2 linked regions of the Homo sapiens genome follow. The protein of the gene in region 1 interacts with the protein of each later gene in a pairwise test. Each region holds a gene or a part of one and is shown in the gene's direction. Other genes may lie near its edges.

Region 1 (5,068 bases):
TTTATTACTTTTCTACTTCCAGCCTTCTCCAATATCCCTTTCCCTTTCAGACTGTTAAGTACTAACTGAGGCTGGCAAGAGCATTTTCTAATTTATAGAATCTGCCTTTTGAATCTTTTGGGATGGCAAATGACAATGACAGTATATGCATGGCTTCCACCCTCATCTGCCTGCCTATATCTTTAAGGTCCAGCTTTCCTTATTTCCTCCTGGATTCCCACAAAGCTAAGATTGATGTCTTCCTCACTGGTGGAACCCTTGATTTGTGTATTACTGCACTTACCAAGGGAGGGTTTAAGGAAGAGCACAAAATTTGAAGTTAGACAAAGAGCTACTTGGACACTTATTTAAATCTCTATTTGTTCATTTGAAAGAAATAATACCTAACTTACAGAATTCTTGTGAAGATTAATAATATATGTAAAAGTGAATTGTAAGATACTGAGCTATATAGATGTTAGGTAGAGTAGTTTGTAATTTTATGACTATGATTGTGTGTAGCAGTGGTTTTAATTTCGGCTATGCACTTGAATTACTTGTGAAGATGTAAAGAGTTGCCTTGGCATCTCTATTTTGAAAGGTTTATAGGTGATTCTGATATGCAAAGTTGAGAAGCACTGCCTTATATTAACAATGTTTTGCATAAATGTCTTATGTAAGTATTATATGAAAAGTAATATTTTATTGCCATTTAAAGTTCATTCATTTGCTAAATACATATTATGCATCAGGCATTGTCATAGGTTCTGAATAAACAGATGAATCATAGCCTCTACCCTTGGGTTTATAGTTTCCGGGAGAAACAGACATGTGCATAGACAATTACACTACATTGAGACAAAAAATGACAAAAATATGGAGATAAGTGCAAGTGCCATGTGAACACAGAGGAAGGGCATCTGCTGCACTTGAAATGGGGGTGGCCTGGCAAGCATTCTTAAAGGAGGTGACATCTAAGATGGGTTCTGAAAAATGATCAGGGGTTAACGAAGCACAGTCAGGGAGGGGTGAGAAGAAAGGGGAGATGATGGACCCTCTTGAAAGAGAGAGCAATATGTGAGCAGAAGATTTGAGAGCCTGTTTGGGGAGCCCTGTGTAGTTTAGTATGCTTAGAAGATAGGGTGTAAAGTGGGGAGGCGTGAGAGCAGAGAGGAGGCAGGGCCCAGATGATGAAGGGCCTTTTGTATAATGTACAAAATACTTTTACTGATATTATCTGACTTTATTCTTTGGACAATCCCCTGGGTTAGCTAGGACAGGTGTTGTTTTATATTCATTTGATAGAAGAAAACACAAAGAGGTTAATTGACTTGCTGAGGCTATACAGCACAGCTAAGATCTGAAGCCAGGTTCTTATGATTGTTTAGTTCATCATGCTTTTTCTATTACACCATAGCCGTCTTAGACTTTTGCGGTGTGGTAGGGAATCAGGTAAGCTCTGTGGATATATGCACAACAATTTGGAAGCTGTAATGTGCTAGACTGATGTTGGCTAACTCATTTTACAGATGAGGAAATTTAGGAGCAGAGACATCAAGCTGTCATTTGAAGACTTTTTTTTTTTTTTGAGATGGAGTCTTGCTCTGTCGCCCAGGCTGGAGTGCAGTGATGCGATGTCGGCTCACCGCAAGCTCTGCCTCCCGGGTTCACGCCATTCCCCTGCCTCAGCCTCCCAAGTAGCTGGGACCACAGGTGCGTGCCACCATGCCCGGCTAATTTTTTGTATTTTTAGTAGAGACAGGGTTTCACCGTGTTAGCCAGGATGGTCTCAATCTCCTGACCTTGTGATCTGCCCGCTTCTGCCTCCCAAAGTGCTGGGATTACAGGCGTGAGCCACCTCGCCCGGCCTTGAAGACATTTTTAAAAATTATTACTGTGTAACCACAGCAAGTCACTTAACCGTCCTGAGACTCAGTTTTCCTTAGCTGTCATATAAATGTGTTGAATTTGATGCCAACTTCTTTGCTTGAATATTTCGACAGTGATTCTTAACCTTCTCACCTACTCCCTGCCCTCACCCTTTCTCTGTGATACACTGGGATGTAGTCCATCAGTAACAGTATTTCACTATGGAAATAGTTCCCAATGGGCTACAGGAACAAAATGTAAATTGCCAGTTTTGGGGATGGGTAAAGAGGGACTTGGTATAGTTGGAGGGGCTCTTGGTTCTCCAATTACCTGTTAGAGAATTACTATTAATATTTTATTTATTTATTTTTTTGAGACAGGGTCTTGCTCTGTCATCCAGGTTGGAGTACAGTAGCTCCATCATAGCTCACTGCAGTGCTGCCCTCCCGGGCTCAAGCAATCGTCTCACTTTAGTCTCCGAGTAGCTGGGACCACAGGGGCATGCTACTAAGCCCAGCTAATTTTTGTATTTTTTGTAGAGACAGGGTTTTGCCGTGTTGCCCAGGCTGGACTCAAGTGAACTGCCCGCCTCAGCCTCCCAACGTGCTGGAATTACAGGCATGAGCCACTTTGCCCGGCCAAGAATTACTATTTTATAACATTCCCTCCCACTTATTTTCTCATATGGAATTATCTCACCAGTCCAGAGTCTGAGATTTTTTTGGTATCCAGGATAGATTTTGCTTAATTTAATAAATTACATATGTAATTTGTAAAGTAACTTAAAAAAAAATAAAGAACCAGGTGAGCAAAATGAGAAAGCCCATTGTGATAGACTTGAAAAGTCCAAGTTTCCTGGACTTTCTAGAGATTATATATAGGATTATATATATAATTTTTGTGCTTTACTGTTTTCAAAACCCTTTTATATAGAGTCTCATTTAACTTAATTCTGTTCTTTAGCCATCATATTTTTATAAATGAACAGAAGTTAAGTGGCATGATTATGTAGCTGGGAAGTTACAAACTGGAATCTTTAATTCATATTTTCTGTCTCCAAATCTGGTCACCTGTTCCTGATCATTTGGGTGCTGCCCTGACCAGTGGCACTTTTTAAAAAATTGTAGGTTCCTAGGAGAATGGTAAAATATATTTATAGTTCCCTCTAACTCTTTCAAAAAATCGTTTTTTTACTATCCATTGCCACTTGCCGGATAATTGACTTAGTTGACTATGTGGTAAAGGTTCCAGGACAGTTAGGAATGGCTGCTGAGTATATTCTTCACACACACACAGACACACACACAGACACACACACACACACACACACACTCTTTCATGTATGTACCAATCCAATACAGCTGGTCCCTGACTTACAGGGGTTCAACTTAATGATTTTTCGACTTTATGATGGTGTAAAAGCAATATGCATTCAGTAGAAACCATACTTGGAATACCCATCCAATCACTTTCAGTGCAGTATTGAATAAATTACATGAGATATTCATCACTTTATTAAAAAATAGACTCTGTGTTAGATGATTTTGCATAACTGTAGGTGAACGTAAGTGTTCTGAGTATGTTTAAGGTTGGGTAGGCTGAGCTACGATGTTTGGTATGTTAGGTGTATTAAATGCATTTTTGACTTAAAGTATTTCAGTGTAAGTTGGGTTTATCAGGTCGTAACCTAATCATAAGTCAAGGAGCATCTGTACAGCTCTATAGTGCTTCTATTTATTCCTTAATTAGACTACACATATTTATTGATTTCTTCCTGTGTGCCAAGCATTGTACTTAGTACTAAGGATACACTCATAAATAATACAGACATGGTCCTTGTCCTTGCTCTTACAAAGATTACATTCCAGAGGGTAATACAGAGAAAAGTAAGTAGATATACAAGTGGACAGTTGCAGATTTTGATAAGTCCTACAAAAGAGATAAAGGACTAATGTAGAGAATTTTGGAGTGATAAGGAAAAGACCTCATTGAGGAAATGATGCTTTTAAACTGAGATGTGCATGATAAATAGATTTTAGTCATGCAGAACACTGAGGGGGAAAAAGCATGTCAGGCAGAGGGAACATTTTAAATGCACAAAGGCCCTGAGAGTAGGTAAAAGTTTAGAGATGTGCTGCTCAATATGGTAGCTACTTAGCCAGTGTGGCTGTTGAGCACACTGACTGATTCACATAGAGATGCACTGTAAGTGTAAATAAAATACATACCAGAGTTTGAAGACAATACTGAAAAAATAATGTAAAATAACTCATTAACTTTTTATATTGGTTATATGTTGAATTGTTAATATTTTGAATATATTGGGTTAAATGTATTTTAAAATTAATTTCACCTCTTTACAAACTTTAAAATATGGCTACTAGAAAATTTGAGATTACATATGTGGCTTTTCTTTAAGGCTAACCGTATCTTTCAGTTGGATAATGCTGGTTTACCTCAACATAGAGGAACTAAAAAAAATTATGGCTGTTGTATAGGAAGCAAGAGTAAATGGTATGAGATGAAGTTGGAGTGGGAGGAAGAGACCTTTCAAAACGCTACCCTGTGTAATATCCTAGTTAATCCGAAGGGACTGAGAGGGGATTATCAAGTCTGATTTTATAGATGGAGACAGTAATTGCCAAAGTCTCTCTTCTCCTCTCTAGAGTGCTAGAATGAGGAGATGAACAAGCACTTTTAGCATAGTATCTTGGGAGTAGAATGCTCTATTTCATTGTTAGCTAAAACAAACAAGTAAATAAATATTGATGAAGAATAAATTGATTAATACAAGTTTCCAAGTGGTCTTGAGACTGCCTCTGGCTATCTGTGGTAGGTGGACCCTCTCAAAGACTGAATTTTTCATAAAAATTTTCCTGTAGGCTGACTCTTCTTGAAACTGTTTCATTTTATACTATATTTCTTTAATTTTATGTACGTTAAAAATTTTTTTTAAATAAAACATTGGCAGGGGAGTATGTGCAGTGAACACCCATATACCCATTATTTAGATTCTGTGGTATTTTGCTGTGTTTTCTTTATCGCATGTCTGTGTATCCCTTGATCCATTCATTAACCTGTCTTATTTTGAAGCATTTCAAAATAAGTTGCAGATATCAGTACACCCGTAAACACTTTAGCATTCATATCATTATTTGCTTACATGAAACTATACTCTTACTTGATACTCTGTGGCATTATTTGATGAATATCTGTCTAC
Region 2 (4,927 bases), on another chromosome or scaffold:
GCAGGTAGTAACTTCAGTCTGCTGAAGTTGTGCCCACAGCCAACCCTTCCCCCAGGTGCTCTGTCCCAGGGAGATGGGACTTTTATCTATAAGCCCCTGACTGGGGCTGCTGCCTTTCTTTCAGAGATGCCCCGCCCAGGGAGGAGGAATCTAGAGAGGCAGTCTGGCTACAGTGGCTTTGCATAGCTGCGGTGGGCTCTGCCCAGTGTGAACTTCCTGGCAGCTTTGTTTACACTGTGAGGGGAAAATGGCCTACTCAAGCCTCAGTAATGGTGGATGCCCCTCCCCCCACCAAGCTCCAGCATCCCAGGTCGACTTCAGACTGCTGTGCTGGCAGCAAGAATTTCAAGCCAGTGGATCTTAGCTTGCTGGGCTCCATGGGGGTGGGATCTGCTGAGCAAGACCACTTGGCTCCCTGGCTTCAGCCCCCTTTCCAGGGGTGTGAAGGGTTCTGTCTTGCTGGCATTCCAGGCGCCACTGGGGTATCAGAAAAAACTCCTGCAGCTAGCTCAGTGTCTGCCGAAACGGCTGCCCAGTTTTGTGCTTGAAACCCAGGGTCCTGGTGTCATGGGCAGCCAAGGGAATTTCCTGGTCTGTGGATTGCGAAGACCGTGGGAAAAGCGTAGTATTTGAGCTGGAATGCACTGTTTCTCAAGCCACAGTCCCTCATGGCTTCCCTTGGCTAGATGAGGGAGTTCCCCGACTCCTTGCACTTCCTGGGTGAGGCAACACCCCACCCTGCTTTGGCTCGCCCTCCGTGGGCTGCACCCACTGTCTAACCAGTCCCAGGGAGATGAGCCAGGTACCTCAGTTGGAAATGCAGAAATCATCCACCTTCTGCGTTGATCTCACTGGGAGCTGCAGATCGGAGCTGTTCCTATTCGGCCATGTTGCCTGTCACCCTGACATTTGTCTCTTTACGAACACAGTATTTCTGTCTGTTGAAGCTTCACCGGGGAGAGACCTCCTTTACTCAGTTTGATTCATTAACACTCAGCATTGCTGAGCAGTCATTGTGCCGGGCACATGCCCAGTGCTATTGTGCGTACATCTCATCTCATTCTCAAAGTAACCCTGAGAGATAGGTCATTTTCCCCCGGCTGGAGCAGAGGAATAGGGAGCTCAGACAGGGCGGCTCGCGAGAACGAGGTTGTGCGTGGCCGAGCCCTGATTTGGACAGAAGCGCACTGCCTTCCTCACTGAGTCTTTGGTCACAGCAGTCAGCCCCGGCCTCTGTGCAGGGGGACGCTCTGAACGTCCTTACTGTGCTTGTGTGTAGGGCTTGGGGTTTCTGACAGAAATTCTCTTTCTCCATAAACCTTGAGGGTTTCCTGTGCAGGTGTGGTCACAGGCCGGAGGGTGAAAATGCTGACTGCCCTGGCATGTGCCCAGGTCCCATCAGGAATGGCTGGTGCAGCCTGTACTTCTCTTGGTAGCCCGCTGACAAAGGCGGTCTTGTTTTTGTCAAAGATGGGGCAGTCTTAAAATGAATACAAATAAGCGGCTCAAGTTTGAGACCCTCACGGAGCAGGTGGTTTCAAATGTCAGGCTTTGAAAAGGAAATGTTGAGAACTAATGAGAGAAGCAGGTCTCCAAAGCCTATTCCTTGAGGGCTTTTGGGCATCAGCTGCTTTTCCCCCAAGCTCCCTGCTGCCAGCTCTCTTGTCCACTAGGCTCTGAGCAGCCTTGGTGCTGGCACCAAGAAGAACCAGGGGCACAGGGACCCCTGCCAGGAGGCTCCCGCCAGCATCCTCAGGGCCGTAAGCTCCAACTCAGGTTTTTACTGAAACCTCAGTGTGCTTCTCAGTCCTCCGGGGTCAGCCTTGCTGGAGCCACCTTGTTGTGTGGGACTGACTGTTGCTCTCCTGGGCCGTCGTCATCCTGGGAGCTAGGCACTCCTCCTAAGAGGACCTCTTCACCGGTTTTTGTCTCGTTCTAGACCAGCCACTGCATTACGTAGTTGTGACTGAAATTTGAGTTGCTGAATTGTTTTTCAGTGTCACACCGCTATTTACTATTCAGGCCGCCACACACACCAGGCCCTGCTGCTGGTTGTCTCCCTCCAGTGAAGCTTTGTCTGAGCCATTGCTGTAATTACCTGCCTTAGAGCGAGAACTGGAGGTAGTCAGCTTGAGCTGTGGGTCATGTGGCCTCCTCCTAGTTTCTGTGCACATGTACACAGACATGTGTCTGCCCTTTGGAGTCTCCTGGGATCTGAGTAACCTGGATTGTTTTTAAAAACAAGTCAAACAAGATATGTGGAGTTTCCCCCCGATGTGTGAGGCTCCTTCAGCAGGGCTGTGATGGCAGCTGAGTGGATGGGGACAGGCTCTGGCCGTGCTCTGTGATCACAGAGCTGTCAGCAGGAGAACCCACAGGAGGTCTGATCTGGCCCTTGGCATGGGCTGAGGGGAGAATGTGCCACAGGTAAAATGCAGGCTGGCTGCCAGAGGTCAGCACCTTTTCCCGGTTGAGGCTGTATGCTCACTCAGCTAGGTGGTATGGCGGCCTTTTTATGGACACCTGGCTTCTGGAAGGTAGCTGCCAACGTGGTACTTGGGGAGGCGAGCCAGCTGTTAGGGTGGGAGCAGAGGCCCTGGGAGCTCAGAAGGATGATGATAGCTGCTGGTTCAAAATACGGACCTGCTGATCCTAAGCTATTAATCTTAAACTTCTGAAATAAAGACAGAGATGGAAGGAGTTAGAATAGTGCTGGTCCATATTTTCCCCGAAATGAGAAGTAGACTTGGAATCCTTTTCTATATCCAGGATCCTAGTTCCTGCATTTTTTCCTCTGGTTCTTATTAGCATTTTTCACTTTAAAAAGTAAAAATACGTATTACAGTTGCCAAGTTTAAATTATTGGGATAAAATGCCCTACCACAGAATTAAAACCAAAATAATGCTCATGTGATGTCCCTTAAGGTGGTGAGTGGGTTCAGGACCCTCAGCCACCTGCTCAGCAGGGAGAAGGCAGGGAGGGAGGGGTCCCTACTCGCACAGGACAGCGGGGGACAGGCCAGGGCATACCATTCGAGTCCATCACAGAAGTGGCTCTGGCAGACTCTCTTTGGAATAAGAATAGAAATAAGTTTTGTATCTGAAGTTGGTTAAGTTTCTCTGAAATTCGCATCAGTCAACACCCAGGTCACAGCTTCCTTTATCCTCTCTTGGAGAGGATCAGGGAAAGGGTTGAGAGAGCCCTGCCTTCTCAGAGGGCGGCCGAGCGGGCTGCCCCATCTGCCATGGAGGCAGGTACAGGCTCATGGCGTGGCGTCCACAGCTCCTACCATATCCTTCTTGCTTCTCTGCAGAGAATCTGGACGAGGCTAGAGAACAGAAAGAAAAGAGTCCTCCAGACCAGCCTGCGGTCCCCCACCCGCCTCCCAGCACTCCCATCAAGCTGGAGGAAGGTGAGCTCTGGGTGGCAGCGGCCGCCACTGTGGGAGGGTGCACGGCTCGTGCGCGCTGTGGCGGAATGTGGCGGGAGTCGTGTTAACAGCAACACGGAAGTGTGTGCTTGCATCAGCGCCAGGACGTGACACCTTTCTCCTCCTATATTGCTTCTGTCCTGGGTAACTCCAGGCAAAACAGATTTGTATGTGAGCTGTGACCAGGTAGGAAGGCCGGCCTCGGGGGTCGGAACCCACCATGGTTGCTGGTGTCCACGTTGCCCATTGCTCGCACACTCCTCGTGCCGTGTTGTCATGCAGATGCCACCTTCGGAGGTGCCCTCCGCTGTGTGAGCCACACGCCGGCTGCCTCTCAGCCACCGTGTGTCTGTGGTGTGTGATCCCGGGTGTCTGTCCCTCGGTCTCGTACATCCATGTCTCTCGTGAAGCCCGTGGCCCTGCCTTTCTTCTTCTGTAACCTGATGGCTGTGACTGAATGCATAGATTCTCTCCTTGTGCTTTTTTCTCCCTGTGGCTGCGTCACAAGCAGGAGACGGATGCGCTAGAGAGTACCTGTTACCCTAGTAAGTACCGTGCTGCCTCCGCTCTCCACCGGTGCCCTGCGCTTTGCCTCATTCTCCTGCTTCTTTGTTGTTTATTAAGTTTTGTTTTCTGTTTATTTAAAATAAAAACAGAAGCCCCCCTTTTTTGTACCCAGTCCCTTGGAGGCCTTCCTGGAAGTGGTTCAGTCACCTGAGTGCTGTGCTGCCTTCAGCGGCAGCGGGTACCTCCACGCACCTAGGTGCCATGGAGCACTCTGGGCCTCAGGAGTTCCTACCTCCAGCCTTTGAGGGTCTCTTTGGATTGCTTGGTGGGAGGGTTTTGCCACACTGGATCAGATGTAAGTGCAGCCTCGGTTCAGACAGGGTGGGGTTCTGCCACCTGCCGTGTGGGGTCAGATTGCCTTGGACCTTTGCTGAAGCTGGTCCAAAGGAGGTGGGCAGAGGAGCGGATATTGGACCCTCGTAAAGCAGTGTGATGTTCACTCAGATGATGGCAGCTCTCCAGAGCGAGTGCCCTGGGGCAGCCTCCGTCCTAGCATCAGCCACACCATGCCCAGCAGAGCGGGCCCCATCTCCTCAGGGGGAGCGGCGCCTGTGTGCCCATAGCCCTTTCCCGGTTCTCATGAAGCGTGGCCTGGAATTAGCCTGGGGCAGCTGGCAGGGTGGGGGTGCTTCCAGCTTCCCAAAGGTAAAGCACTGAGAGTTTGGGGCCTGGGCCTCCTGTGCTGCTCCTAACCACTCAGCTGACTCCCCTGGCCCTGATGTGTGGCTTGATTTTTAAACACTAAACAGCTTGTGGTGCCTAACCTGTCAGTTGCTGGTAACTTTGTAGGCCGTTTACGAATGGACAGAGCGGGTGCCCGGGTAAGTGCAAGGAAGGCGCCCCCAGGCTGTGTCCTCAGGGCCGCTGTGCTCCTTCACAGATGGCCACTCCTGATGCTGGGTGGAGTTTTTGCCCCCACTCCTTGCCTT

The links.
Region 2: the proteins of PAK1 (region 1) and ADD1 interact in binary tests that used the Homo sapiens proteins (3 or more experiments, as listed by UniProt).

Annotation. Positions count from the first base shown.
Region 1 is NC_000011.10:77,463,102-77,468,169, reverse strand, and holds part of PAK1 (serine/threonine-protein kinase PAK 1), read left to right. Parts: intron 1-5,068. UniProt on the Homo sapiens protein: Protein kinase involved in intracellular signaling pathways downstream of integrins and receptor-type kinases that plays an important role in cytoskeleton dynamics, in cell adhesion, migration, proliferation, apoptosis, mitosis, and in vesicle-mediated transport processes.
Region 2 is NC_000004.12:2,922,700-2,927,626, forward strand, and holds part of ADD1 (alpha-adducin), read left to right. Parts: intron 1-3,314; coding exon 3,315-3,413; intron 3,414-3,942; coding exon of another isoform or gene 3,943-3,976; intron 3,977-4,927. UniProt on the Homo sapiens protein: Membrane-cytoskeleton-associated protein that promotes the assembly of the spectrin-actin network. Binds to calmodulin.